Linked DNA regions of Homo sapiens: all the other regions are linked to region 4. The links come from fine-mapping of genetic effects on gene expression. A gene starts in region 4. Each other region holds a variant in brackets. All regions are shown on one strand. Distances are from middle to middle.

Region 1 (7,572 bases), 50 kb before region 4:
AATTCCCAGTCTTCCACTCCAAAGGACAGCCCTCTAGGCTGCCTCATAAAAAAAAACCCTAAAAACCTTAGGCCTCAGGCAAGATATCTGCCCTAAGTGCTGTGTCTTTTTCGCAATTCAGTCTGGCCACAATACGAATTAAATAATGGGTCCAAATGGCCCGCAAATGAAACATTCAACTTTACAATTTTAACTGACTTAAGCAATTATTGCTGACAACTGAAGAAATGAGAAGTTCCTTATGTCCAGGCCTTTTTATTCTCAAATCACAACCCAACCTCTGCAATTCTTTCTTACCTGTTCAAATCCTTCTCCATTCTTGCCACCCTGATCGCCTTTCTCTTCCCGACCCTACCTCTTTTTCCTCATTAAATCCAGCAGACTGCTGTCCACCCCTCCCAGCCCTTACCTCTTCCTCTCAACCATCTTCTTTAACCCCTGCAAGCCTCCTCGTTGTCTTCTCAGCTGCCATCTTCCCAGTCGCCATCTTCTCAGTAAGCAGTATCCACTTCTTTTCCTACACCGTCCCCTACTCAGGACAATTCTAGTATTGCCTGTACCCATTCTCCTCCCCCACCGCCCTCTCCTGAGGCTTGTAAACCCATCCCACCACCTTACGCCCCTATCCTCCACTGCTTATCAACTCAACCACCCTTCCCCCTTCAAACCCTCAGCAGAAACCACTTCCAGCTTCTTCCTTCTCTCCTGCCCTTACTCGCTCGGGCGCCATCTTTGGCCCATGCCCCGCCCTTACTTCAGCGCCGGTGCTAGAATACCCCCTTCAGAAAGTAGTAGAAAATGAAGGTATTGTTAGAGTTCATGTTTCCTTCTGCCTCACTGATCTCTCTCAAATTAACAAAAGATTCGGTTCATTTCCAGAAGATGCTACCTCTTATATTAGAAAATTTCAGTACCTCACCCAGTCTTATGAACTGACCCGGCATGACCTCTAGGTTATCCTCTCTTCCACCCTCACCCCAGAAGACCAAGACCGTATCTGGACTGTAGCTCAGGCACATGCTGATACCATTCATCACCAAGCTCCTGCCCAGCCTACTGGTGCGGAGGCAGTCCCCAACCAGGACCCCCACTGGGATTATCAAGACAGGGCCTCTGGATGCCACCGTTGAAACCACATAATTGTGTGTCTCCTTGCAGGACTCAAAAAGGGTGCCCATAAAGCGGTAAACTATGAAAAACTTTCAGAAATCACCCAAGGTCCTAATGAAAACCCAGCCCTTTTTCTCTCTCATTTAACTGAAGCCATTAAAAAATATACCAACCTAGACCCAGCTAGCCCAGAAGGAACCACTATCTTAAACCTTCGGTTCATCTCCCAATCCACCACCGATATTCGGCACAAGCTTCAGAAGCTTGATGACGGCCCTCAAACCCCACAATGAGACCTTCTAAATTTAGCCTTCAAAGTCTTTAACAATCGTGATGAGGAAAGTAAAAGGCAAAAACAGGCAGAGTTTCGAATGCTTACCTCTGCCATCAGGGGCCCTGCAGGCCCACGGGGCCATAGCTCCACACGGAAGCCTCCTAGCAATCCACCTCCACCTGGCGCCTGTTTCAAGTGCGGCAATGAAGGTCACAGGTCCAGACAATGCCCAAACCCAGGTAAGCGCACCAGGCCGTGCCCCCTCTGCGGAGGACCCCACTGGAAGTCGGACTATGAGCAGCCCCAGCAAGGACCGCCCCCATCCCTTCCGGAGCCGGCCAAAACCTCCTACTTGGATCTCATCGGCCCTGCCGCTGAAGACTGAGGGTGCCCTGGAACAGACGCCCTGGCAACTACCATCACTTCATCCAAGCCAAGGGTAACCCTGATGGTGGCAGGTGGGCCGGTATGTTATTTTTGAATTAATACCGGGCAACCTACTCTGCTTTACCTAATTTTTCAGGACCCACCCAGTCCTCCCAAGTCTCCGTTGTGGGAATTGAGGGACAAGTCTCCAAACCCTGAGCCAGCCCTCCACTTTTCTGCTCCCTGCACACCTTTTCCTTCACTCACTCTTTTTTTTTTTTGAGACGGAGTCTTGCTCTGTCGCCCAGGCTGGAGTGCAGTGGCGCGATCTCAGCTCACTGCAAGCTCCGCCTCCCGGGTTCACGCCATTCTCCTGCCTCAGCCTCCCGAGTAGCTGGGACTACAGGCGCCCACCACCACGCCCGGCTAATTTTTTGTATTTTTTAGTAGAGATGAGGTTTCACCGTGTTAGCCAGGATGGTCTCGATCTCCTGACCTCGTGATCCACCCGCCTCGGCCTCCCACAGTGCTGGGATTACAGGCGTGAGCCACCGCGCCCGGCCCGCTCACTCTTTCTTAGTCCTGCCCTCATGCCCAACTCCGCTCCTAGGCAGAGACATCCTTTCAAAACGCCACACTACTCTCCACATCCACATTCCCCATAGTACCCAACGCATCAACCCAGACTCCTCTGGGCCATCTAACTTTCTTCTACTCCTCCAACCTCCCACCTTAAAACATGCAACTTCTCCTTATCCGCCGCCCGTAGTTAACTCCGCAGTTTAGGATACTTCCACACCTTCAGTCACAGAACACCACACCCCCGTCCGCATTACTGTTAAAGAGCCCACCCAGTTCCTATCACAGAAGCAGTATCCCATTCCTCAGCAGCTCTCATAGGCCTAAAGCCTATCATTTCTCACCTCCTCACCAGTCGCCTACTCCGCCCAACAAACTCCCCTTTTAACACACCAATTCTACCTGTTAAAAAGCCACATGGAACTTAATGCTTAGTCCAGGACCCCAGGCTCATTAACCAAGCTGTACTCCCGGTATGTCCAGCAGTTCCTAACCCATATACTTTACTTTTCACGATTCCCTCCAATACCACTCATTTTTCTGTTCTAAACCTTAAACAATGCCTTTTTCACAATTCCTTTACACTCGAATTCCCAAAACCTCTTTGCCTTTATGTGGGAAAATCCTGACACCCACATTTCACGTCGGCTCACCTGGTGTGTACTACCTCAAGGTTTCAGAGACAGCCCCCACCTCTTCGTACAGGCCCTTGCTTGCGACCTTTTTACCTTATCCCTAAAACCGTCCACTCTCCTTCAATGTGTTAATGATCTGCTCCTGTGTAGCCCCTCTCAAAGGGACTGCAACGCCCATACTATCTCTTTTAAACTTCTTGGCAGAACGGGAGTATTAGGTCTCCCCTAAGAAAGCACAAATATGCACCTCCTCGGTCACCTATCTAGGCCTAGCTCTTACCCTGCAAACCCGAGGGCTCACAACCGACCGCATATCCCTCCTCCAGTCCCTCCCGCCTCCGCAAACTAAGCAAGAAATTCTCTCTTTTCTAGGACTAGCAGGATATTTTAGGCTCTGGGTTCCCTCCTTCGCTCTACTTGCCAAACCGTTATACTAAGCTGCTAAAGGCCCTCTCCATAAGACTTCAAACCCTGCACAGCCTATTCCCCAACCTTTCTGTCTGCTCCAGAAGGCTCTCACCTCAGCCCCCGTGCTCACTCTCTCAGACTTCACCAAATCTTTCTCCCTCTATACCGACGAACGGCGTGGAGTTGTACTGGTGTTCTAACCCAGTCTAAGGGACCCACCCTCCAGGTTGTTGCCTACCTCTCCAAACAGCTTGAAGCCACAGTTCTCAGACGGCCTGCCTGCCTCTGAGCATTGGCGGCAGCTGCTGTCCTCACCCTTGAAAGCCTAAAACTATCTCTCCAAGCCAAACTAACAGTTTATTCAACCCATAACATCAAAGACAAGCTAGCTCACCGCAGTGTACTAAGTCTCATCTCTGCCCCACGGCTCCTCCAACTGTATGCTCTATTCGTAGAAACTCCCCA[C/T]ATCACCGTCTAACCATCTCCCATCTAAACCCGGCCACGCTCTTACCTGAAGCTGCAACTGCCCAAGACCCTACACATTTCTGTGTAAACACTGTTCAAACCTTCCTTATACCTTTTCCAAACCTAACAGACCAACCCCTTCCAGATGCCTCCTTTACTTGGTTTTGAATGGCAGCTCCTTCCTACATCAAGGACACCAGAATGCTGGCTATGCTGTAGTGTCACCACCCCACATGCACACTATTGAAGCCAATCTCCTCCCGCTAGGCACCACCTCCCAAGAAGCTGAACTCATCGCCCTCACTCGAGCTCTCACTCTAGCAGCAGGACAACAGATCAACATATATTCAAATTCTCATTATGTGTTCCACATAGTGCACTCACACTCATCCATCTGGAAAGAACGGGGTATCCTAACTGCAAAAAACACTCCTGCCATAAATGGCTCTCTCATCAACAAGCTCCTTAAAGCTGCCAGGCTCCCGCAAAAAGTTGCCATCATTCATTGCAGGGGCCACCAAACCCCAGACAATCCTATATTGGCTGGAAATGTGCTAGCAGATCAGGTAGCCAAACAAGTGGCCCTACAACCCGTGCAAGGCCAGTTTCTGTCCCTGTCCTTGTTCTCTCCGCTTTACTCCTCAGAAGAAAAGGAGGACTTCCGAGCCCAAAACCTTCAAAAGCAAGGACCATGGTATGTCAAAGAAGGGCGCTTCGTTCTTCTTCACTCTCAAAGCCTTCCTCACCTCCAAAGCCTCCACAAGTCTTTCCATGTTGGTTACAAACCTCTCCTGTAACGTCTCCGCCCTAGCCTCACTTGTCCTCACCTTTCCAGCCATGTTTGATAAATTACCCAGTCCTGCTCTATCTGCCACTCAGTGTCATCCCAGGGCTCCCTCTGGCCGCCGCCTTTTCCTACCCACCAAGCCCGAGGCCAGGTACCTGGGCAAGATTGGCAGGTAGACTTCGCTCACATGCCGCCCGATAAACGGCTCTGCTATCTTCTAGTCTTTGTCTGTACTTTCTCCAGATAAGTAGAAGCATTCCCGACAACTTCAGAAGCTGCAAATATTGTCACACAAACTCTTATGCATATAATTCCCTGTTTTGGACTCCTAACATCCATCCACTCTGGTAACGGGCCCGCCTTCATCAGCTAAATTACCCAAGGCGACTCTACATCCTTAAGAATAAAGTAAGTTCTCCACACACCCTACAGGCCTCAATCGTTAGGCAAAGTTGAAAAAATTAACCCTGTCCTTAAAGCCCAACTCACCAAGCTGGCTCTAGAAACCCGCCAGTTGTGGACAAAACATCTCCCTTTTGCCCTCATGAAACTGTGCAACACCAAAAGCACCCTCTTTTTATAGTCCCTTTAAAATCATGTATGGCCAAACTTTTGTCTTAGGGCCTCCATCCTTACCAGACTCTGAGCCACGCAGTAATTACCTCCCCTCCTTAATCCAGACACGGTGTTTCATTCATAAAGCAGCAGATGAGGCCATGCTTCTCCCTGTCGACACCTCCTTGTCCTCTCAACATAACTGTCTTGCAGGCACAGACATATTTCCAGACAATGCAGGCGATGCTCCTGCTACAACGACATGGTGAATACCAACCCATCTCTCAAGAATACCTAAAAATTAAGGTTTTCTTTTTCCAACGTGCCCACACCACCCCCTATGTCCCGCCTGAAGTAGTTATTAAGAAAGTTGTCCCTTTTCCCTTTTCTATAACCAAATAGACAGGAATGTAAGATTCTCCCCGGGGCCTGAAAGCTTAAGGGGATGAATAACTCCTCCCTTCTCAGGCCCAGTCCCAAGGTGCAAGGCTACTTGTGCCAGCAGTGTGCGCCAGCAAAATAGCAGAAGCAGGAAGAAGGCCAGCTGGAAGACACGTACCCCTGAAGATCAAGAAACAGGCCATCTGGGTACAACGTAGCAGTTACATCAGACTAGGACACTTCCTGTTTACAGGACACTATAAATCCTTTGCCCCGTCCTCACTTGGTGCTGACGCCATTTTAGGCCTCAGCCCGTGTGCACCCAGGCTCTCATTAAAACAGCAAGTTGCTCCACACCGCCTCCTGTTGTCTGTCGGCACACGCTCAGGGTTTGAACTGATACAAGAACCTTACAAGTAGGTCTCAGCCTCATTTTACCCAGCCTCCATTCAAGATGGAGTTGCTCTGGTTCAAATAGCTCTGACAATATTGAAAACTTAACATGCTTCCGTCCCTCAATGTGGCACATTCAGACTCTCCCTAGTGTCAAACCCACTTCTTCATCACCAACAGGGCTCCACTTCACAATCTGCCTATGCCATTCCTTCCACCAGTTGAGGGAAGGCCATTGCTACTTGTAAATGTCTCTCCAAACTCACCTTATATGTGCAGAAAGCTTGTCAAGATGAATTCTGGCTGGGGTCATTTATTTTATATCCTTTTGGCACTCTGAAAATTCAGAACACTCAACTCTTACAGCTATAGCTTTTCAACTGTTGTCACAGAAACTTGCTTGTGTATTTGGTCTCTACCCTGTTCCTCAGCACTTGAAGGTGGGACCAATCTTTCATGTGTGGTTCCTAACAGTGCTCAAATAGAAATATGTTTTTCCCCAACTCTTACAATGAGGTGGGAGAGTTTTCATATTGTTCTTATTCTCATTTTCTCCCTGATTTGTATGGATGTAGGTACGTCCATGTCATTATAAAGAGAATATAAGCACATTAAATAAACTTTGAAAAGTAAAGAAAAAACTAGCATAGTTCATTACCCAACTCTAAGCATTGTTATAAGTTCTTGAAGCTTCTGTGACAGTAAAAGTTAACAAGCCTTGTTTGATGCAACTTTTGCAGAGTTGAACAAATGATTTTGGATTTGCAGATTTGAAGTTGGAATGTACCATAAGATAGCCTTGGTAGTTTAGTTTAGCTGTGATTAAGAAAACACATCCTTCCTAGGTTGATGAATCCTGGCTCAGCCATTTACCAGCGGTGTGGCTTTAGGCAAGCTGCTTGATCTGTCCATCTTTGGGCATATCTGTATGCCTTCAGAAAATGTTATTCCACTACACATATGTTACATATAGTCCTCATTTTACATAATGTCCCATGCAAGCAGCTACCCTTACTATTACAGAGTCTTCATAACCTAACTTCAAATTGTTCTATAATATTCTATTTAATAAATGGCTCAGAGTTAAGTAAATGTTTTCTTTTTGGTGAAATGTAGTGTTTTAATAACTGAAAAAAAGATCAATTTCTTCAATTTGTAGTGGATAAATAAATGAATTATTATCTGCCATCTCCTGGGTACTCTGTGTAAAATAAAATAAAATAAAATAAAAACCTACAACACCCTGGGTAGAGCCCAAACCGGTTGTACTTCATTTATATTCCCAATGAGAACAACCTAGAATGAGCCTTCCAAGAACCCCTTTGCAGGCACGATCCATCAGCCCTGCGAAGCGTGGGAACACACCTGCGATTAAATGAACCACTCATTCCCTCAGAGCAGTCCCTTCTCAGTGCCCATGGCCACCAGGGCTGCCGCCAGCACATCCCCCACAGCCCATGGCCCCGCCTAGTTATTACACAGAGCATGAGGAGCTCTCTGGTCAACAAGGTATGTCACAAGGACAGCGTCTCCTGCCATGGGTTTAGCTGCACACTGGTAGATGCATTCGTGGGCCGCAGCTCTCCCTGTCTTCCTGGGTTTTGGTTTCTCTTCTGTTA
Region 2 (7,572 bases), 200 kb before region 4:
TTTTTTTGTTTTTGTTTTTTGAGATGCAGTCTCTCTCTGTCGCCCAGGCTGAAGTGCAGTGGTGCGATCTCAGCTCACTGCGACCTCCACTTCCTAGGTTCAAGCTATTCTCCTGCGTCAGCCTTCTGAATAACTGGGACTACAGGCGCGTGCCACCATGCCTGGCTAAATTTTTGTATTTTTAGTAGAGATGAGGATTCACCATGTTGGCCAGGCTGGTCTTGAACTCCTGACCTTAGGCTTCCTGCCTGCCTTGGCCTCTCAGAGTGCTGGGTTTACAGGCGTGAGCCACTGTATCCGGCCTCTAAATGTCTTTTACAATTACAATTGGTCTGTTCAAACCAGGATCCATTCAAGACCACATATCACTCTTGGTTTTTATATAAGAAAAATCTTAAATTTATGTACTACTCTTGGTTGCTAACTTTATGTGAGTTATATAAATCCTTGTTTTATTTATATCCTTCCAGTCAAAATTTCCTTCTTTCCCACCTCTAATATTTATCAAGAGCCTTATGATGTGTTAGATGTTGAAGATATAAATATAAATAAGTTAAGATCTTTACCTTATGTCACATGGATGAATAACTATAAAACAGTGTGTGAGAATTCTGCCAGAGACAGAGACTGGGCATTCCATCACCTTTTTCAACTTTCTTCAAGTGATGAGGAGAAGAAATTGAAAAATTGGTTTAGGGAGGCAGTTGAATTAAGCAATCACATAAAGCAAAGTTTTACAGGTCATGATGTGGATTTCAAATTCCTTTAGTCTCCTGGTCCTTCATTCTTAGGAGTAAACCGGAGTTGATCTTTAAAGTCATTTGATACCCGCGTTGTTTAAAGTCTGTTTTTATTCCTCTTCAAGCCTCCTTGAAAGGCTGTCTCCAGCCCATGCCTCCCATTCCCACTCAGCCTTCCATGACCACAAACATGAAAGAAAGACTCCTACAAAGGAAGACTATCCACTCTCCTGGACTGGAAGTGTTTGAAGAAATCCTCAGGGGATATAACACCCGGGGCACATATGCCAATATGTCGGCCCGTTTTGAACGTATGTGCTCCCCTGTGCTGTTACCAATGTTGTAATTAGTTCTGAGCCATGACAACCACTTGATGAGTGGCTAGAATATTGTGGTTAAATGTCTGGGCTTTGGTTTCAGAGAAATCTGAAACCAATCAGTTTCAATCCTGGCTCTGACACTTACTAGATATGTGTCTTTGGGCAGATTCCTGAATCCAGTCTTGAAGAGTGCTGAAGTCCAAACTTTGTTCGTCTGATGTGGAAAATTATGCAGTTTCCCAAGGCAGGGGATCAAAGTTTTAAAGTTCTATGGGAGTGCGTCCTTCCTGGAGCCCTAGCCATTCTTACACAATATGCTGATGATCTGGCACACAAGGGGGGCAGAAGCACCATGTAAAACTTCCTCTGGAACACACATGGATTTAAAAATCCCTTGGAGAGAAATGTATCCTGCTAAGGCCAACCCAGCTCTCAGCCTGGTTCTCATGTTGACCCTGGAAGGTTCACCCACCTCTGTTGGGTGGAGATGGCGTCCTGGGAGCCTAGAAGACTGTCCAGGCACAGAGCAAGGGCAGCTGTCTTTCCAGAGCAGGTGGAAACTTAAATGACCCCAAACAAAGCGTGTGTGTGTGTGTGTGTGTGTGTGTGTGTGTGTGTGTGTGTGTTGAAACAGATGGCATTGTGGATGTAGCTTGTCTGAGGAGAGATACAGAGTGGTATGTTCTGGGTTTGGAGAAATATTCCTCCACAGCCTACTTTTCAGTTTTCCATTCTGTTGTACATTGCTTTTTAATTAAACACTGTTTATGGACACAGATGCTTCTTCAAAGTTCCCCAGGGGGGCTTGCTGACAATCTTTGCTCAAAAGATTTAGTGCTATTGCCCAGAAGCTTACTTAACTCCCTGCTGTCCTAAAAACTCCCCCAAAGGCTTTGGTTGAGGATAAAGGGAGGAAACTGAAGCCTGGATACTTTGCAGAGGTGTGTTGGTCCAGGCTCCTACACAGGAGAGTCTCGGAGTCAGAACGAACTGTTCATGGTCATCTGGTCTAAACCCTCTCATTTTTCAAATGAGGAAACTGAGACTCAATGAGGGGAAGTGACTGATTTGTCCAGAGTCATGGAACCCATGAATGGTAAAACAGAGGCCAGAATTCAGAGCCCATGAATCCTGGGGTGGCCTTACCATGGATAGTTCATGGGATGATGGAAAGTCACATGTCCTCTACTGTTTAACTGTGTTTCTGACTACTCCAGGGTTCAGAAGAATTTCTACCAGACAGAGGACAGTATGGGCAAAAGTGGGGATGATTATGGGCCATGGAAATGGGTGATGAGGTGTATCCTATTGATAGCAGGATATGTTTTCAGCTGGTTTTCCAGTTGCATTTCACGTGTACTGCGATGACTTTCTTGTGTAGCACTATTGAAGCTGTGACCCCCGTGATCCAGTCCTAGAAGCAGTTATAGAGGCACAGTTCAAATAAGCCAAAACTTCATTAAAAGAGAATTTATTTTTTTCCCTCATCTTTCTGAAAGGACATTCAACGGGCTTCCATGTTTAATCCATGGCATGTCTTCATCCTCTTTGGATTCTTGCCGGGTTTTCTCATATCCCGCACTCTGAAGGACTTTATTAACCAAAACTTTGAAGAATTATTTCTTTTGCCAGCAGCCCCAGTGACTTCTACTTCCTGAACATCCTCTCTTTTCTCTCTCCATTTTTTATTAGGTAGATTGATTAACCTTTTTCTCAGTGTCCTTCTACTTCTCATCCCACCTCTCTGGTGCTGTCCTTCTTTGCTTACTCTGACTCTGCACTCCAAAAATCCAGGCAGTGCTATGTTGGTGAGATGGGGGAGAAAGGGGAATCGGGCTGTCAGTGAGAGGTTCTCTTGGGCAGGTGAGGTGAAGGGAGGAAGTTTATGAACATTAATCTATTTTATCCTATCATGGGTATTTTCCCACAAGTTATTTTTTTTTTCAAATACCTTACTATCATTCCCTAGTCTAATTAAACTCCTAGTATTGCTGGTACAGATGTATGTATACAACTCACGATTGAATGTATGCTTGCTTTAAATGTTAGCGTACAAAGACAAAGACCTGGTCCTTGGCTCATATGGTGGACAGACACACAGACAATCATAATTGCCACACCAGCAGTGTTTAGTTGAAACAGGGAAAGAACAGGGCCTTAGAAGACTTCTCCAATGGGGAGGGGTATGTGTATTGCTACTAAAAGAGAGAGGGAAGGGACGCTGGAGAGATGAAAACTGATGTTCAGCACACCTTCTGACCAGGAGGATCCTCACAGAGAGAGAAGATTAAACAACTAAACCCATATATGATTAGAACTAAATAAATCCTATCAGTGGTAATTGCTCCAGGAATTCAGAGGAACAGAGTTCCCTGAGAGCCAGTTGGAATATATATGTCTTTCTTAAATCTAGTTTCTCTGTCACCCCGTATTCACCTTTATTTGGTCTGGTAGAACTGGAAGAATTAGGTAGAATTTAGGCAAGAAAAGGGGAAGGCATGAGCATTCTAAGAAGAGAAACTGCATCAACCTAAGGGATGTTCGTTGATAAATGAGCAGACCAGTGAGAAGGAGAGGTTGAGTAAGGAGGAGCTGGAGAATAAATTTGGAGAGAAGAATCCGATTCCAAGGTTTGTGACACAAACTTAGCTATGGGAAGCAAAGTCCAAGTTAAAGAACCTCAAATGTATGTTTTTTCACTTTACATCTTTTTTTTTAAATGATATTTTACTTATTTTGAGAAATCTCAGGCCGAACACGGTGGCTCACGCCTGTAATCCCAGCACTTTGGGAGGTCGAGGAGGGCGGATCACTTGAGGTCAGGAGTTTGAGACCAGCCTGGCCAACATGGTGAAACCCTGTCTCTACTAAAAATACAAAAAAAATTAGCCAGGCGTGGTGGTGTGTGTCTATAGTCCCAGCTACTCAGGAGGCTGAGACAGGAGAATCGCTTGAACCTGGGAGGTGGAGGTTGCAGTGAGCCGAGATCATGCCACTGGGCAACAGAGCGAGACTCCATCTCAAAACAAAACAAAACAAAACAAAACAAA[ACAAAC/C]AAAAAAAGAGAAATCTCAAATCACTTTCTGATTTCCCATCATAAAAACTCATAGCATAATTCTTTGGCTATTTTTCAGGTTCTTTCCAAGTAGATAAGCACTTCTGTTTTTTTCTTACCAGATTTGAGTCAGGGTGACTTGATTGTTTTCCAAAACTCGTTGCTCAAAATTGATGGTTTCTTCTTTTGTTACACATTATAGACTGCTTGTTGGATTCCTATTATTTAAAATTCTGAAATTGTATATACCCTTATTTATACTTCTTGTGCCTTCCTCTGATTTATCCACTTGTCAAACTCATCCCTCAAACATAGATCAAATTTCCTTGTGTAGGCAATGTATATGCCTGACTTATCTTACCATGGCAGTTAGTATAGGGATAAATGAATGCATGTATGAGAGAAAGGATTTATATCTATCTAGCCCAGGGATGGCAGATAGATTTGTGTTAATTATGAGTGCATCTGATTGCATGTGTTAAACAAATTCACTGAGTGATGGGTTAAACAAATAGGGGTTTACTTTTCTCACATATCAAGAAGTTTGGAAACAGGAAGCTGCAGCACTTGGTCATGGACTCTAAAGTCAAAAAGAACTCAGTCTCGAGATCACAAAATGCATACAAGACAAGAAAAAGTAAAGAAGGAGAGTAGCACCAACTATTCAGTGGCCTTCTGGTGATGTCTCACTAACTACACCTAGCTGAAAGGGAAGCTGGGAAACTGAGTTTCTCACCTGGGCATGGGTATGCTACTGTCTGCTATAGTTTGGTTTGTTTGACCCCTCCAAATCTCATGTTTAAATGTGATCCCTAATGTTGGAGGTGGGGCCTAATGGGAGATGTTTTGGTCATGGAGGTGGACTCGCCATTAATGGCTTGGTGCTATCTCTGTGGTGAGTTCTGGCTCTATTAGTTCCTCTGAGAGCTGGTTAAAGAGCTGACATCCCTCCCCACTTTACTTCCTCTCTCTTCATGTGATCTCTGCACAGTCAGCTCCCCTTCACTTTTTACCATGAGTGGAAGCAACCTGAGACCCCCACCAGAAGCCAAGCAAATGGTAGCACCACGTTTCTTGTACAGTCTACAGAACCATGAGCCAAATAAACCTCTTTTCTTTATAAATTACCCAGCCTCAACTATTCCTTTATAGCAGCACAAGTAGATGAAGACACTGCCTGAGGAATATCTTGGTTCTGTTGGCAAGGAAGGATAGGGGGATGGATATTAGTTGGGCAACCAATGGCATCCATCACATATTTCATCTCATGTTCCAAGGTTAATAGATTTGTGGTGGAGCATTGTGTTAAGTATCATGAAGACCTGACCAAGTCCAGCAGGCGAAGGTAGTTTGATTGATCATTAATATCTGCTGTGGGTGTGGAGTGGGGTATGACGGCAAGCTTAGTGTGCATTTGGCATCTTTTGTCCATCCCTTGTCCCTTCAAGCCAGGCTTTCTGCATCTTCCCTTGTTAGTTTTTCTAAACCCTGTTCACACCTTTATAAAAATCCTTTTTAATAAACCACTCCCAGTTTACCCATTGTAAGTGTTCAATTTCTTTCCTGCAAGGATCCAGATTAAGGCAGTCTGTAGTGCTTTGGGGGCTTGTTATGGATGAAGGTTTCAGAATTACTGGTGAACATTTTGGTCTCCCTCTGATTTTAAGTTTCTCAAAGTCAAGATCAGGATGCCTCCTACACTCTACAGGATACTCAACTTGCAGCATGTCATGGGATGTGCTCATGAAGTGTTTTTTATTCATTTTTATCGATCAACCCCCTTCCCCTGCCCAGGGCAATGATAATTTTTCTGCTGTGCTTTATACGTATGTCCAGCTGTGAGATGTTGGAGACAGGAGCTTTCAGCGATTAGAAGGAGGGAGCTGACATCTTTCCTGGTTCTCTCTGGGTTGCATTGTGACAGGTCAGTGAGAGCTATCCTTTCCAAGCACTGTTGGTTGGAAGTGGCTGTGCACCAGGTGGCCTAGAAGGACAAGTGTGTCATCAGCTGGTGGACCATGCTCTTTCTGCCCTGTTCTTCCTCTGCCTCCCTGTTCCCAGGCCCTAGGGTCTACCCTCTGCAGACAGGCCAGTGATGTATTATTAGACTTGCCACCCATCCCTTAGTGTGCTGGAGGAGGTTGGGGAGGAGCCATTTAGTGTCTTCAGAGCTGGGTTTCTTCAACTTTACTGAACATACGAATCATCTGGGGATCCTGTCAAATTACAGAATCTGATTCAACAGGTCTGGCATAGGGGCCAAAGATACTGCATTTCTAACAAGCTCCCGGTGATACCTATGCTGCTGATTCAGGAGCACATTTGAATGGCAAGGACTAAGAACCGCACCATCCAATACTGAAGCCACTAGCCAACATGGCTATTTACAATTGCTGTCTTTCCTTTCATTTTTATCTCATAATTTCATTAACCCACCAGAACTCTTTGAGTTTCTGGTGACAGAAACCCAACTCAAAAGATTTGAAGCTTAAGCTAAAAAGGAAAATATGTTGGTTTTTATGAAACTGGAAAGACAAGGAGTTGGCCTTAGGAATGGCAGGCTCCAGGGATTCACATGATTATCAACATTGTCATCACCACTGCCGTCATCACCGCCACCATCATCATCCCTTGCTCCATCCTTTATTGCTCCCTTGCCTCTTGAGTTTGTGGCCCCATTCTCTCTACTTAAGGACTGGCTTCCTCTCCCTGGCAGGGGCTTTGGCCACTGGTGGTTCCAAGCTAACATGATTGCACTTACCATCTAAATGGGAAAGGAAGCTCTTCCTCCCAGTATCTGACTTGGTGCTGTTTGGGTCTTATGCGTGGTACTGTACCTGTCCCTGAATAGGGTACTAGAGTGCCGTGGGTCACTGCTGTAGATCGGAGAGTGGGTCACCATGATGGGAAGCCCCAAGAATGAGATGAGTGGAGGGAGATATGAGTACATCCTCAAGGAAGAGAAGGAGTTCAAGAGGTATAGGGCAGACAGAAGCAGCAGCAGATGGTCGCTCCACCCCACCACTCTCTTCCACCTCACCAAGAATCCTGCCCCTCTATTCCCCCTAAGAACCTCCTTCCTAGTTTCTGCCACTCTTTAATCATTTCCAGTGGAGGAAGATATCTTGACATATTTTGCTGGGTGTTTAAAAGAGCACACCCATCTTCCCATTGTATTTTCATCCCCATCAATTATCAAGGCTTTCTCTTTGGGTCCTTCAAGCATTTGATAGCATCTCATACCATCTTGCTCGAAAGATTTATTTAAATTGCCTTGGAGTGGCAAGCTTAAGCACAAGGGTGGTAAATGGCAGGAGGGGAAGGCAGCCACCTGTCAAGGGAGAGAGTGTTGGAAATGTTCATTAATGGGAGGGAGGACAAGACAGTATGTGGGTGATGAGGTCTGGGGAAGGTTCAGGTGCTGGGGGCACAGGCAGGGAAGGCAGTGCAGGCAGGA
Region 3 (7,572 bases), 180 kb before region 4:
TAAGTGTCTACAATCAAAAAGTCTAAGAGCACAAATAAACAGCCTAAACTCACACCTCAAGAAACTAGAGAAACAAGAACAAACCAAACCCAAACCCAGCAGAAGAAAAGAAATAACAAAGATTAGAGCAGAACCAAATGAAATTAAAAGAAAAAAACAACTCAAAAGATAAATGAAACAAAAAGCTGGTTCTTTGAAAAGATAAACAAAATTGATAGACCACTTGTGAGATTAACCAAAAAAAAAAAAAACAGAAGAGAGAAGATCCAAATAAACTCAATTAGAAACAAAATAGGAGATATTACAACCAATACCATAGAAATACAAAAGATATTCAAGGTTTCTATGAACACCTTTATGAGCATAAACTAGAAAACCTAGAGGAGATAAATAATCCTGGAAATATACAACCTTCCTAGATTAAACCCAGAAGAAACAGAAACTCTTAACAGACAAATAACAAGTAGCAAGACTGAAAGAGTAATAAAAAAATTGCCAACAAAAAAAAGTCCAGGACCAGGTGGATTCACAGCTGAATTCTATCAGACATTCAAAAAAAAGAATTGATACCAATCCTACTGAAACTATTGCAAAAGATAAAAAAGGAATCCTCCCTAAATCCTTCTACGAAGCCAGTATCACCTAATACCAAAATCAGGAAAGGATGTAACAAAAGAAAAATAAAACTACAGACCAATATCCCTGATGGACATAGATGCAAAAATCCTTAACAAAATACTAGCTAACTGAATTCAAAAGCATACCAAAGAGATAATCCACCATGATCAAGCGGGTTTTATACCAGGGATGCAGGGCTGGTTTAACATACACAAGTCAAATGTGATACACCACATTAAAAAAAAGTGAAAACAAAAATCATATGATCATCTCAATAGATGCAGAAAAAGCATTTGACAAAATCCAGCATCCCTATATGATTAAAACCCTCAGCAAAATTGGCATAGAAGGGACACACCTTGAGGTAATAAAAGCCATCTATGACAAACCCACAGCCAACATTACATTAAATGGGGAAAAGTTGAAAGTAGTTCCCCTGAAAACCGGAACAAGACAAAGATGTCCACTTTCCCCACTTTTATTCAACACAATACCAGAAGTCCTAGCCAGAGCAATCAGACAAGAGAAAGAAATAAAGGGCATACAAGTTAAGGAAGTCAGACTGTTGCTGTTTGCTGACTATGTTGATTATATACCTAGAAAACCCTAAAGACTCATCCAAAAAGCTCCTAGATCTGATAAATGAATTCAGTGTTTCAGAATACAAAATCAATGTACACAAATCAGTGGCACTACCATACACCAATAGCAACCAAGCTGAGAGTCAAATCAAGAACTCAACTATTTTTATAACAGGTGCAAAAAAACAAACAAACAAAGAAACAACAACAAAAAAAACCCAACTTAGGAATATACCTAACAAAAGAAGTGAAAGATCTCTACAAGGAAAATTATAAAACACAGCTGAAATAAACCATAGATGACACAAACAAATGGAAACACATCCCATGCTCATGGATGGGTAGAATTAATATTGTGAAAATGACCATACTACCAAAAGCAATCTATAAATTCAATGCAATTCCCACCAAAATACCATCATCATTCTTCATAGAACTAGAAAAAACAATCTTAAAAGTCATATGAAACCAAAAAAGAGCCCGTATAGCCAAAAGCAAGACTAAGCAAAAAGAACAAATCTGGGGGCATCACATTACCTTACTTCAAACTATATTACAAGGCTATAGTTACCAAAACAGCATAGTACTGGTATAAAAACAGGCACATAGACCAATGGAACAGGATAGAGAAAATATATATAAAGCCAGATACTTACAGCCAATTGATCTTTGACAAAGCAAACAAAAACATAAAGTGGGGAAAGGACACCCTATTCAATAAATGGTGCTGGGATAATTGGCTAGCCTCATGTAGAAGAATGAAACTGGGTCCACATCTCTCACCTTATACAAAAATCAACTCAAGATGAATAAAAGACTTAAATCTAAGACGTGAAGTCATAAAAATTCTCCAAGATAACATCAGAAAAACTCTTCTAGACATTGGCCTAGGCAAAGAGTTCATGACCAAGAACCCAAAAGCAAATGCAGCAAAAACAAAGATAAATAGATGGGACTTAATTAAACTAAAAAGCTTCTGCACAGAAAAAGAAATAATCAGCAGAGTAAACAGACAACCCACAGAGTGGGAGAAAATATTCACAAACTACGCATCTGACAAAGGACTAATATCCAGAATCTACAAGGAACTCAAACAAATCACCAAGAAAAAACAATCCCGCATAAAGTGGGCTAAAGACATGAATAGACAATTCTCAAAAGAAGATATATGAATGGCCAAAAAAAACATGAAAAAAATGCTCAACATCACTCATTATCAGGGAAATGCAAATCAAAATCATAATGCAATACTACCTAACTCCTGCAAGAATGGCCATAATTAAATAACCAAAAAATAATAGATGTTGGCATGGATGTGATAAAAAGGGAACACTTTTACAATGCTGGTGGAAATGTAAACTAGTACAACCACTATGAAAAACAGTATGGAGAGTCCTTAAAGAACTAAAAGTAGAACTACCATTTGATCCAGCAATCCCACTACTGGGTACCTACCCAGAGACAAAGAAGTCATTATATGAAGAAGACACTTGCACACGCATGTTTATAGCAGCAAAATTCACAGTTGCAAAAATATGTAACGAGCCTAGATGCCCATCAACCAACAAGTGGATAAAGAAAATGTGGTATGTATATACCATGGAATACTACTCAGCCATAAAAAGGAATGAAATAATGGCATTCACAGCAACCTGGATGGAGTTGGAGACCATTATTCTAAGTGAAGTAACTCAGGAATGGAAAACCAAACATCATATGTTCTCACTCACAAGTGGGAGCTAAGCTATGAGGAAGCAAAGGCATAAGAATGACATAATAGACTCTGGGGACTTCAGGGGAAGGATGAGAGGGGGGTCAGGGATAAAAGAGCACACATTGGGTGCAGTGTACACTGCTCGGGTGATAGGTGCACCGAAAGCTCAGAAATCACACCTAAAGAACTTATCCATGTAACCCAACACCACATGTTCCC[C/T]CAAAACTATTAAAATAGTTTGGAGTGTGACTGTGAGAATGAGATGAGTCAGCACATGCACAGTGCCTGAGCAGGCCTGGAACAGTGAGTGCTCAGCAGTGCTACCCTGTGTCACAGCCCCAGACACCCCCAGCCCAACCCCTCCTGAGATGCAATTAACACCCACTGGCATGAACATGTGGGGCCCCAACAGAAAAGGTCAACTTGGAAAGGCAAGAAGCAGGGGGCCAAGTTCTTCTCCATATAGAGAGCAGTAAGCAAGTTGAGATGCAGTATCTATTGGTACTAATGCTAGAACCCTGCTCTAGGGGTGATATTGTTAGGCTTTGTGTCCCCACCCAAATCTCATCTTGAATTGTAATCCCCATAATCCCCATGTGTCAAGGGAGAGACCAGGTGGAGGTAATTGAATCATGGGGGTGGTTTCCCCCAAGCTGTTCTCCTGATAGTGAGTGAGTTCTCATGAGATCTGATGGTTTTATAAGGGGCTCTTCCCTCTTTCCTCAGCACTTCTTCCTGCCACCTTGTGAAGAAGGTGCCTTGCTTCCCCTTCGCCTTCCGCCATGATCGTAAGTTTCCTGAGGCCTCCCCAGCCATGCTGAACTGTGAGTCAATTAAACCTCTTTCCTTTATAAATTACCTAGTCTTGGGCAGTTCTTTATAGCAGTATGAAAACAGCCTAATACAAGGGGCTTTCATTTATATTATCTCACTTAATCCTGACAAATACAGACAACTGTTTGTAAGCATTATGAACAGAATTATATCCCCCCTAAATTCATATGTTGAAGCCGTAATCTCTAAGGTGACTGTATTTGGAGATAGTGCCTTTAAGGAGGTAACTAAGGGTGGGGTAATTAAGTCCTAATCTCATAGGACTGGTGTCCTTACAAGAAAAAGAAGAGACACCAGCCATGTGAACACACAGAGCAAAGACTATGTGAGGACACAGTGAGAAGGTGGGTGTTGGCAAGCTACGAAGAGAGGCCTCACCAGAAACTAACCCTGCTGGTGTCCTGAGCTTGAACATCTAGTCTCCAGAACTGTGAGAAAATAAATTTCTGTTGTTTAAGTGACCCAGCCTGTGACATTCTGTTCTGGCAGCCTTAGCTGACTAATACAGTAAGTATTAAGGTTATAGAAAGAATAAAGTAAAATGTATAGGCATGTGGGTGCTCTAGAATTTTCCACCATCCAGCCTCCATTTTCCACTAGGGCAGATGGGTCTGAATGCCCAGGACATTTGCAAGTTGGTTTTCCTTTTGCTCCTTCCTTGAGTAGCTCAGAGGGCATCAAACTTTCTCTAGGGTTATGGACAATGAACCATGTCATCTCCTTTACTGGTGAGACAGAGGAATTTCAAGGGAAATTTTGATTATATGTGAGTCCACCTAACGCTCTGGCTTTTAACCTCTGCACTTCTGTGAAGTGTGAACCCAGGCAAGTCATGCCCACCATGGCCACCTTTCAGTTCCCCTTGAGTATGTTGTTTCTTCTGTCTGGAATATTCTTCCCCTCCTCTCTGCCCAGCATGCTCCTGCATGTTGGTCTAACCCTTTGGTTTTCAATCCATCCATTACTTCTTCTTCTTATTTACTTATTTATTATTATTTTTGAGATGGAGTCTTGCTCTGTGCCCCAAGTTGGAGTGCTGTTGTGCGATCTCGGCTCACTGTAACCTCCACCTCCTGGGTTCAAGCGATTCTCCTGCCTCAGCCCCACAAGTGGCAGGGACTACAGGCATGCACCACTATACCAAGCTAATTTTTGTATTTGTAGTAGAGACAGGGTTTCACCATGTTGGCCAGGTTTGTGCGAAGTCCTGACCTCAGGTGATCTGTGTGACTCAGCCTCCCAAAGTGCTGGGATTACAGGTATGAGCCACTGTGCCTGGCCCCATTACCTCTTTAGGGAGTGTCCCCTAAACCTTAAATCTGCTATTTAAACCCTCAAATTCCCATATTCTATACTCTAACGGCACCAAAGAACATGTCAGTGTAGCAACTTTCATTTTTGTTTGATTAAAGATTGGTTAAAACTTCATTTCCCATTAGACCAAGGGCTCCATGAGGGCAGGGACATGCTGGGCACACTGCCTTCCAGAGCCCGGCACACTGCAGACATTCCACAAATACTTGATGGATGAATGAACCAAATCACTTATTAGGAATGTCTCTGGGCTAGTGACTTCATCTCCCTGGGACCTACATCCTTCCTCTGAAAATGAGGGGGCTGGATTTCATGGTGGCTAAGCCTCCACAAGTCACCCAAAGCACAGTGAGAATTCCTAGGGTGAGAAGCTCCAGAATTAAGTAAGTGGAAGTGGTATCAGTTAACTCCCTGTTAGGCATGAGGGAAGTCAGACTAACGGGCAGTCCCTGAGAAGCATCACCAGTAAATATCTGGTGACAGATTCTCCAACAGGCCTTTCTCTTGAGCTTTTCATACACAGGAAGCAAACTGTATCCAATCCCTCTCCTCTCGCTGCTGTCAACCATTGGAGCTAATGAGTGATGGGAAAAAAATGAGGACAAGCAAAAGGATTGAAATACCAGATCCCAACTATCTTTTAAAATTCTCTGGTTCGTTCAATAAACCGTTATTCAGCATCTGCTCTGAATCTAAACTAGGGATTCAGAGATTAATGATATATGGTCCCTGCCGGTAAGGGTCTGGTACAGGAGAGAGGGAAACAGTCGACAACAATATTTTCATTCATTCACTCATTAATTAATTAGTTAATTAATTCGTTCGTTCATTCATTCATTCAAATATCTGCATTTGGACAGCTAATCTGAACAGAGTGTGAGGGCATACCTCTTCTGGATCTTAAATTGTAACCAGAATGCAATGCTTAGCAGCCTTAAAAATTTTAACCAAGCCGAACCATGGAAAATACCTTTCTGACATTTCACAATTTTTTCCTCTTCTCCAAAGTCATCCCTAATCATCAGGAGTTGGAAACTGTTGACAGAAATCAGGAGGCAGCGAAGGTGGTGGCTGGAGCTTTGGAGTCAATTTTAGACACTGGCTGAGTGAACTCTGGCAGGTTCCTGAGCCTCAGAATTCTTTGTTTAAAATAAATGGGAAGGTGGCTTGCACATGTAGGTTGGTGGGAAGGTTCTGAATCAGACAACATGTTGGAAAAGCCACCTCTCCCCCTCCTAGCTCCTCTGGTTTCTGTGTGCACTACTCTCATGAAACAGGTGTTTCTATGTCCATTTCTCACCTTTATTAACTGAGATTAGGTAGGGGCTGTGTCTTGGACATTCTGGCAAATCTACACAGACTAGCACAGGGCCTAGCACAAAGAGGGCTCTCTAAAGTTCTTGCTGAATGAATACATTGTGGATTAGTTTCCACTCCCACACAAAATCAAGAAATGACCACACTCTGTTTGTTCTGGGCTATGCTGGTGGTGCCACTGTTGGAGAGGGCAGGGCCATAGTGGCTGGGGTCAGGCACTGGCCTGACAGTTGAGAGGTGGCCTCCAAGGTCTTCCAGCTGTTGGCTGAGGAACATAAGGCAAGTTACTCATTTTCTCTGGCCCTCAGTTTTGCCCTCTATAAAATGGGGACAAGGCTGTACCTACCTCACAGGGTGGGCATGAAGTTGAAGTGACTTAGTAGACGTGCTTAGAAGGCAGCTGAGCACACAGTGGGTGTCAATTAATGGGAACCCTCACTAGCAATAGTAACGGAATATTCCATTTGACCAAACATCAAGGCTGATGTCTGACAATGTCTTGCTCAAGTACGTTGACTCATTTTTCTGAAAAAATAAGTCTAATTTTCAGCCTTTTCCTAGGACAGGTCCCTCAATGGAATGGCTCAAACATTGTTCAGACACAGGGACTGAATCAAGACAACACAATTCAAAGGCTGGGAAGTATTCCTTATCTTTGTGTCTAACCTCAGGGCCGAGGTGAGCCTGGACTGAGTCAAATGCTGTCCTAAGCTTTGCAGAGGTTAGAGAGATTTGGTTGCAGGAGATGCTTAACGCCTACAGAGGAAATCTAGTCCTAGAGCCAGCTCTCAGCTGCTTGCTCAAGTTCCTCCCCCTTCACCCTCTTGTGCATCACATAACACTTTTTATAAAGTCAAAACCATGAATTATTTCAGGATTATTATGTGTCATAACTGAACTGAACTGCAGGTTCCTAAATAAATAAGTATTTAAATAGGGACATCACTGAATATTTATGAATTCAAGAGACTCATGTGTTTGGTTCATGAAAACTGTGAAGCAATTTGGAGAGATTTTTTTTCCCTTTAAATTGAAAGATTCCTTTAAGGAGTGCCTCTGTCCAGGATGTGGGAGAACTTTCAATGCCACCCCTAGTGCAGAAGGCAGCCCCTTTCTCAATACCATGGAACTCCAATGGTGGGGCGCGGTGGCTCCTGCCTGTCATCCCAGCACTTTGGGAGGCTGAGGCAGATG
Region 4 (7,572 bases):
TGGTCAATGAGCTAAAGACAGAAGTCCCTGAGAGGGGTGCCCCTTCCCAGATATAGCAGTGAAGCTGTACTGGGTAAAAGCTCTTTGAGACTCATTCATCCTTTTTTCTCTTTCTTGGAATGCAAACCTGAGGCCTAGAGACGTAGCAGCCACTTTCCTACCATGAGATGATAAACCTAAGGCCAAAGGCCTCCACTCTAAGCATGGCAGTGTAGAAAGAAGTAGTCTGGGTTCCCAATGGTACAGCTGAGGCATCATCTCCCTTTACCCCTCACCCCGTTGTTGTCTGACACAAAAAAGTCCCTATCTGGTTAAGTCACTGGTAGTCAAGAGTCTGCTGCTAGCAGCCGAATGCAGTGATATTGGCTACACCTCTGGACATTGTTCCTCTTCATTCATGGGGCAGTTCAGCTGCTCCCACCTCTAGGAGATCCTCTGTGATCCCCTCAGAGCAGAAGAATCATGCCTTTCCTTGTGCTTCCACAGTGGTTAGTTTTCTCAATCATAGCACTTATCTAAGCCTGCTTGATTTGGTTTAATGAGTGCTTCCCCGCAGTCGGCTCAAACTCCTAGAGGGCAGGGGGTGTGTATCCCACCAGCATCTCCATAATGTCTGGAGCATGCAGTGCTTTGCGTTTCTGCCAGGGGGGCTCTGTCTCCCCAGCATTTCCATACATCTGGTTATGCGCTCTGCATTGCAACAGCAGAGTGTGTGTGTTCTGGGGGCTGCCACTCCGCTTACTAGCTGTTTGGACTTGGGCAAGTTAGCTAACTTACCTGGGCTTGTGCCTCCTCATCTAGAAAAAGGAGAGAATGAGAGTACTTACATCAGAGTTGTCATGAAGACAAAATAGTCTAGTCATAAGCACTTGGGATAGTGCCTGGCATACAAAAATGCTTAATGGCTATGGGTTCTTATTAGTATAATGAACATTATAGTTGCTGAATGAATAAATAAATCAACACACAGTTGCTAAATAAATGAATAAAGGAATAAAATCCAGGTAAATTCTGAAGTTCGGACCTCAGGACAGTGGCTACTGTTCCCTCTTTTCTGCTGGACCTGACCCTTTACTTTTTTATTCTAACTGTGACGTCGTGTATCTGAATGCTGCTACAATGGACTGGTTAAGGCTATGAAGTTAGGCCTGGATTTGCTTTTTGCTGTGTCGCTCAGGCAAGTTTCTTCACCTCTTGGAGCCTCTGTTTCCTCAACCATAAACGGAGGATAATAGTAGTACTTAGCTCACAGGATTGTGGTGAGAATTAAATGATAAAGCACGTAAAATATACAGCATTGTGCCTCACACACCATAACAGTGTTAGAAACTGTTATCAAACATTGCCATGATTATTTTTGATAAGTGTACAGCATCCCACCAAATCACATGGTCCTGATGTGGATGAGAAACGCCGGGTGGGGCCACCTTTCAGCATGTCAAGATACACTGCACTTACATCACAGGAATACCCTTTCTTCAGTGCCAACAAACAGTGGTGTTTTCCCCCTTCAAATGGACATTAGTTGAGATAGCTGATGTGCCCCAGAATCTTGGTTTCTTGCATTTTCCCCTGAAGCACAATCTTCAGGTGCATCCTTTAGCTGACAGCAAACCTGGCTAGAAGGAAAGGTACAAGTGCGCAAGAGAACAATCGCGGAGCAGAGCATTTAAACAGCGATGATATTTCCACACATCACCAGTCCAATTATTGTCAGTGACACATTTCAGCCTTACTTGTAGATTTTTTCCCTTCTGGCCTTAAAAGAAGCTGTGTATACAGCTTTACATAACTTTCCCTTTAAACTTAAACCTTTATGGTAGTCCCATTCAACCACTTGACAGCTCCATTAATCTATTTTTACTATTAAACATGCCATTTTACAAGATATTTATTCCACTTGGTCGTCATCCAAACGCTTTTTGACATTACTGCCCTGGGAGTGAACTGCTTAAACTCGCTGCCCTCATAAACAGAAAATCACCTTTTGACTCAAATCTTGAAGAGCTCTCAGAACCTCACCCCCTTCACTTCTACAGGCATTAATTTCTGCCATATATAAAGGAGAGAGTGAGTAAGTGTGTGTGTGTGTGGTTTTAAGAGGGTAATTGTGGGAGGTCTGGGCAATTCAAGAAGTGCTGGGGGAAGGAATCCTCTCCTCTAACTCCATTCTGCTCATCGGGGCCTGCCTGAGACCTGGAGATCTGGTAACTTAACAGAGAGAAAGTGATCAGAGAGCAGGTTGGGGAAGAACTCCAGGGCCTAAAAGGCAGTGTCCCAGGGGGCCAAGCTGAGCAACCACTCTTTAAAAGGGGAGGGGTCGAGGGAAAGTCCTTATTCATCGACTTCTCTCCTTCTCCACGCCCCAGACAAACAAAAGGCCACCGCGAAACAGTTGAAGGTAGAGACCTACTGGCTTTGAAGACTATCAATCAGGTGGAAACCTGAACAAATCACAATTTGGCTTCCTCATCAAGTTTTCTCCCCAGCCTGACAAACCCTCCTCCGCCGCCGCCTCCACCTCCTCCTCCGCCTCCCAGGCTCAGCACAGCTACGAGGCCAAAGGGACCGTCCTGTGATGCCTGCTGGTTTCCAACTTTCCGCTCATCTTCGTCTCCGCAGCCTCCTGCAAAGCGGCTGGGAAAAGGGCAAGTTTGCAAAGCCGAGGATACAAGTCCTGGGGAAGCCACAAAGAAGCTGCAACACCAACAAAGATTAACCTCTTGTGGGGCAGACGAAAAGCGCCAGCTGCCGTTCAGGGGGGCGAACGTGGGCTCGGGCTGGCAGAGGCTCCGGCCAGCTGGCAGCGGACAGCAGGGCCGGGGGTCCCGCGGCCGCCCTCGGCCCCCCGCCCCGCGCGGACTCCCCCTGCACCTGAGCGGGGGTGAGGACAGCGCCGCGCTCCGGCCCTGCCCCCGCCAGGTAGCTCGGCTGCCGCCCGCGCTGCGCGCCCGCTGCCTGCAGCCGCCGGGAGCGACGAGAGCAGAGGCAGCCTCGGCCCACGGCGTCATGCTTCCTGCCACCACATTACGGCGAATCGTCACCGGGAGAGGGGAGCGAGGGGAGAGGGGGAGGGAGGGGAGCAGACACACGCAGCCCCCCGCCTGCCAAAACGCGCGGAGACGGGGCCACGTCCCGGTGGAGTCCCCGCGGGACCTGCCCCGTTTGCACAAAGCGCCGCAGTTTGGCCAAGAAGGGAGGGAGACGGCCACGAAATAAATAAATAAAAACAGTCGGGTCTACGTAACGCCCTGTCGAAAGCGGACGCCATATTTTTTTGTGGCTTATGTCGACATAGGGAAACGTAGACATGTTTTTCCTCCTCCTCCTCCTCCTCCTCGCTCTGGCTCCCATTTATCCAAACTTGTAATCAAAACTCTTAAAAAAAAAATCTTCTTCCCTCTCTGTATCCGCTCATTTCCTCCCACCCGCAAAAAGAGCCTGCACACCCCCCCCCTTCCGTACCCCCCTTCCAATCACAAACCCGGCCAAGTCCCATTAACAACACATTTTCGGGAGCCGCGGCGGCGACGGCGGCGGTGGGAAAGTTGGGCTGGAGTGGCCGGCGCCCGGCGTGCGGGGTTTGGGGCCGGCGGCGCCGGCTGGGGGGCTCCGCGCCGAGGCGAAGTTTCTTACCTGCGCTGGGGCTGTGAACGCGGGGACCCGGGCTGGGAACGCGGAGACGCGGCACGGGCGTTCCAAAATGGAACTCTGCTGGCTCCCCCCACCCACTCCCCACTCCCCACCGGGCGCCCGGCTCGGGCTCCGTGGGAAAGAGGGGGAAAGCCAGCCTGCCAGCCAGACAGACAGACAGAAAAAGCCCCCGTACGGAGAACGATGGCCAAAATTTTTAAAAGAAAAAAAAAAAGGAAAAAAAAAGGGAAAAAAAATGCCTCGATCAGTGGGGAATCTACGCCAAAACCCACATGATCTGTAACGTCAGCATGCGTATTTGCATACGATACCACCACCCGAGCTGCCACCCGGGCTCGGGTTCCGCAGAAAGTTACAAAGTGAAATTCAGCCCCCTCCGGAGACACCGGCGAAATGTCATTTTTCAGGCAGGAGCTGGGGGGGAGGCTAGCCCTAAAGGCGCTGGTTACTGGCCAAGGTAGGGGGGCAGTAAATTAACTTAAAAGTCTGAGCCCAGTAACGGACTCGGTGGAATTTCTGCGAGAAGAGGAGGGGGAGGCGCGAGCGAGATCATTGAATATTAAGCACGACCCCGCGCGGCGGCCGCGGCCAAACCGTCTCCGTGCAATACCCATTTTCTTTATGAAAAGTTCAAGGTGTCACTGATGAGCTCAACAAACTGTTGATCTTGACCACGTGGAGTGGCGGACCGTGGGACCGAAGGGCGCGCTTGCAGGCCCGGCTCTGGCGGTACCCGGGCCCCGGGACCCTTTGCGTGGGACTGTGCGCGGGTGGGGCCACCACGCACCCTGGGCGCTGCCTGCGCCTTGGCCCGGCTTCAGGCTCAGGAAAATAATAATAACGATTTTAAAACTATGTTGAGCGAGACACATTTTACTCCCGGAATGATAATGAGAAGGCTCGGCGTAGGGAGGGGAAGAAGGAGCCCCCCACTTATATAACGACTTGAAGTTATATCACTTTTGCTTGGGGAGATTCCGGGATTTCCGCCCGCGCCAGGTCTGAGGCTGGTTAAAGATCTTCAAACTTTTTTCCCTTAAGAGCCAATAAACAAACAGACGCCCCAGGGGCCGACTTAAACTCTGGTAGAGCCCGAGTTCGCTGGAATTCTCAGATTCGAAGAAATGCACACGCCTGCGGTGCTCGCAGAGAAGTCCCTCGGAAGCTAGGCGGGTCGCTTTCGCAACTGGGACTCCAATGTTCCCAGTGGGAGCGGAGCTCTCACCGCGGCAGCCCCCAGGTTCCCCTAGGCGCCTTAGAGCAAAGGTGGCGGGGGATCGCGCTGCCCTTCGCCCGCCGGCTCGGAACCATGAACTTGTATTCCGGGCGCCGCGCTCCTGCCACAGTGCTCGGCTAAAGAGCTCTAAGGAATTCGGGATCTGGGTACACTTCGGGATCTCAGGCGGCAACCTGTCTGCGCCGCGCATTCCTGCCCAGATGTACCTTGTTTCCCCCTGGGCTGGCCTGTGGACTCTTGGGCAGCTCCCGGGCGGGGACGAGGGGATGCGGTCTGGGGGCTAGTTTAGAAGCTTCGAGCGCAGCGAGAAAACAAAGGGAGCCTGGGGCTGGGAGGCTCTGCGGAGTCCCCGCCCGCCCTGCAGATTAGCAGGCGCGTCGCGTCGGGGCTTCCCGGGCAGCTCTGCTCTGGGGAATTAGAACGAACTCTAGCGGCCGTTTGCAACTCGGCTGTGGGCGCGAGGGCATCAACAGGTGGCCGTGTGCAGCGGAGAGGCCAATGGCGAGGACCCGGACTGGGGTGAGGACGGCTGGCCTTGGGGCTGACTGGGTGGCGGATGCGCTGGGTGACCTTTTGGCTTTTTCATTTCCGAGGCCGGGGAGAAGGAAGTAGCTAAAAGGTTTTTGTAAGTTCTGCCCTAGGGCTCTAATTTCTGACATACCCCTTGACTCCCCAGAAATCCTTTGCAACAAAAATTAAAACAGCTCATATGCAAAACTTTCTTAATGGCCTGCACCTGTTTGTTCGGTTATTGCTGATGTAGGGTCTGTTTGTTTGCATTTTAACCGCCCATAAAACAAGATTCTATCCTGGGAAGGAGTCTCTTGCGTGATGCTCGCGGACCTGAAAGGCGACCTGGAGGGGCTCTTACAGGATTCTGTTAACTTCTTGATGACTGTAATCCAGCTTGGGCCACATCTTTCTCAGCCTCATTTGGTACCGGCTAAGAACCTAATTTACTTGCCATCAACATCAGAATTTACCGCTGCCTGATCTCCTCCCAACCTCTGCCTCACCCAGGGTGAACCAAAATTGTAAAAAGAAAAGAAAAAAATATGGGACCCTCCCCCCATTCCCCCGCCTTGTCCCGTCCCGCCGGCCACACCAACTTCAACATTTTTACATCGCTTACCTTATTATGCCCCTTGCAGGCTATTCCACGCCCTGCCCCCCCCCCCTTTAAAATAAGTCTAGTTCTGTCTGTTTCCATGGAAATTACCCAAACCTTAACGAAGCTATTCCTATTTTGAGGCTGCACCTCCTCTGGATGATCAATCACTTAGGAGGGTTTTCTATAAGCCAAGTTTCCCTTGCTGCCACCTCACTGCCACCTGCTTCTGGCTGGGTGACAGATTGTATGTAGGGTGGAATGGGCCAGGTGGGAGGGAAGCCAGGTAACCCTCTAAACAGTCTGCTGGGTTCTCATATCTTCAGAGCACTTGGATCTCATGGACACTAGCAAGGATGAGGGGCTTCTGATGTGTTGCAGTGTTTTAAAATTGTTCAGAGTTTAGCATGGACTGAACTTGCACCATATAAAGAGAAAACAATGAGGAATAAGACAAAGGTGGCTTTTGCTTTATGTGGTATGATCCCTGTTTGCTTGAAGTATACTCATGGAGTAGACAGACCGTTATCTGACAGTATTTAGGAGCTTCAGAATCAATAATGTTGGACAAGTAAATGTTCAGCCAGGAAGTAACGTATGCCACTTTCACTTACAACTCATTGGTCAGAACTAAACACAAAGTTAACTGTAAAGATCCATGGAAGTATTGTGTGCCTGGAAATGGAGAGAATGGGAAAGATTTGCACTAATATGATAGCACTAAGGACTATCATAAATAATAATAGCAGTTCACAATTATTGATCATTTACCATGTGCTGAGCCTTTTATATGTATCATCTCATTGAATCATCACAAAAATCTATATTTTGTCTTTATTTTACCGATATAGAAACTGAGACTTAAAGAGCTTAAGTACTGTACCTTGCTCGACATCACACAGATGCTAAGTAATGGAGTTGGAATTTAAGCTTAATTTTACCTGCTTCCCAGAGAATAGACTTTTAAAACACTGTCCTCAACCACCTTTGGACTTAATTGGTCCCCTGTTGTTGGGCATTGGGTAGTTTCAATTTTATTCCAATGAACAACCTTGTGTCAGATCTTTTGAATCATCTGCGATTACTTCCTTAGGATAAATTCCTAGGTACATATTTGCTTAGTTGAAATATACACACATTTCAAGAATAAAAACCTTTTGCAAAAAGTGAAAGCTTTAGGAGGTGTGGTAGTCTTCTAAGATGGCTTTTTTCAATCCTTTCCTTCCTTTTTTGAAAAATACATCACCATTAAGAGGTGGAGTTTACTTCCCCTCCCTTGGAATCTGGACTGGTCCTGTGATTGCTTTGGATGCAATGAAAGTGATATTCTGAGACATCTAAATCCAAGTCTTAAGAGACTGGCAGTTTCTGTTTCCTTCCTTTTAGGGTCCTGCTGCCATGCTGTGAGAAGCCGAAGTTTCATGGAGAGGCCACATGGAGTGAAAACAAAGGTGATAGGGACAATAGCTCCACCTGAGATCCTGATTAATACACAGACTTTAGCCATCTTGGATGCTCCAGCCTAATCGATCTCCCACTTGACTCTAGTCTCACCTGACATTATGTAGAGGAA

The links. PIP is the estimated chance that this variant, and not a neighbour inherited with it, causes the effect. A credible set is the group of variants that fine-mapping cannot tell apart.
Region 1: its variant is the best candidate, but not a certain one, in a credible set for the expression of ZHX2 in prefrontal cortex (ROSMAP, PIP 0.75).
Region 2: its variant is the best candidate, but not a certain one, in a credible set for the expression of ZHX2 in monocytes (CEDAR, PIP 0.64).
Region 3: its variant is the best candidate, but not a certain one, in a credible set for the expression of ZHX2 in whole blood (INTERVAL, PIP 0.54).

Annotation. Positions count from the first base shown.
Region 1 is chr8:122,828,456-122,836,027 of GRCh38, reverse strand. All of the region lies in intron 1 of ZHX2 (zinc fingers and homeoboxes 2), which reads right to left. Among named protein-coding and RNA genes, the nearest start is that of ZHX2, 51 kb to the right of the region's middle. RefSeq lists an enhancer at 1-257. The variant C/T (reference allele first, on the strand shown) is at 3,838.
Region 2 is chr8:122,979,545-122,987,116 of GRCh38, reverse strand. No RefSeq gene overlaps it. Among named protein-coding and RNA genes, the nearest start is that of DERL1, 59 kb to the left of the region's middle. The variant ACAAAC/C (reference allele first, on the strand shown) is at 4,111.
Region 3 is chr8:122,957,713-122,965,284 of GRCh38, reverse strand. The region is part of intron 3 of ZHX2 (zinc fingers and homeoboxes 2); the gene reads right to left. Among named protein-coding and RNA genes, the nearest start is that of DERL1, 81 kb to the left of the region's middle. The variant C/T (reference allele first, on the strand shown) is at 3,133.
Region 4 is chr8:122,778,011-122,785,582 of GRCh38, reverse strand. ZHX2 (zinc fingers and homeoboxes 2) reads right to left here and starts at 3,928. Exons shown (of 4, transcript NM_014943.5): 1 at 3,637-3,928. It overlaps ZHX2-AS1 (ZHX2 antisense RNA 2), which reads left to right and starts at 3,979. Exons shown (of 2, transcript XR_007061082.1): 1 at 3,979-5,410; 2 at 7,386-7,572. RefSeq lists silencers at 1,937-2,016, 2,797-2,926, 3,147-3,216 and enhancers at 2,077-2,611, 3,267-3,316, 4,484-4,983, 4,984-5,485.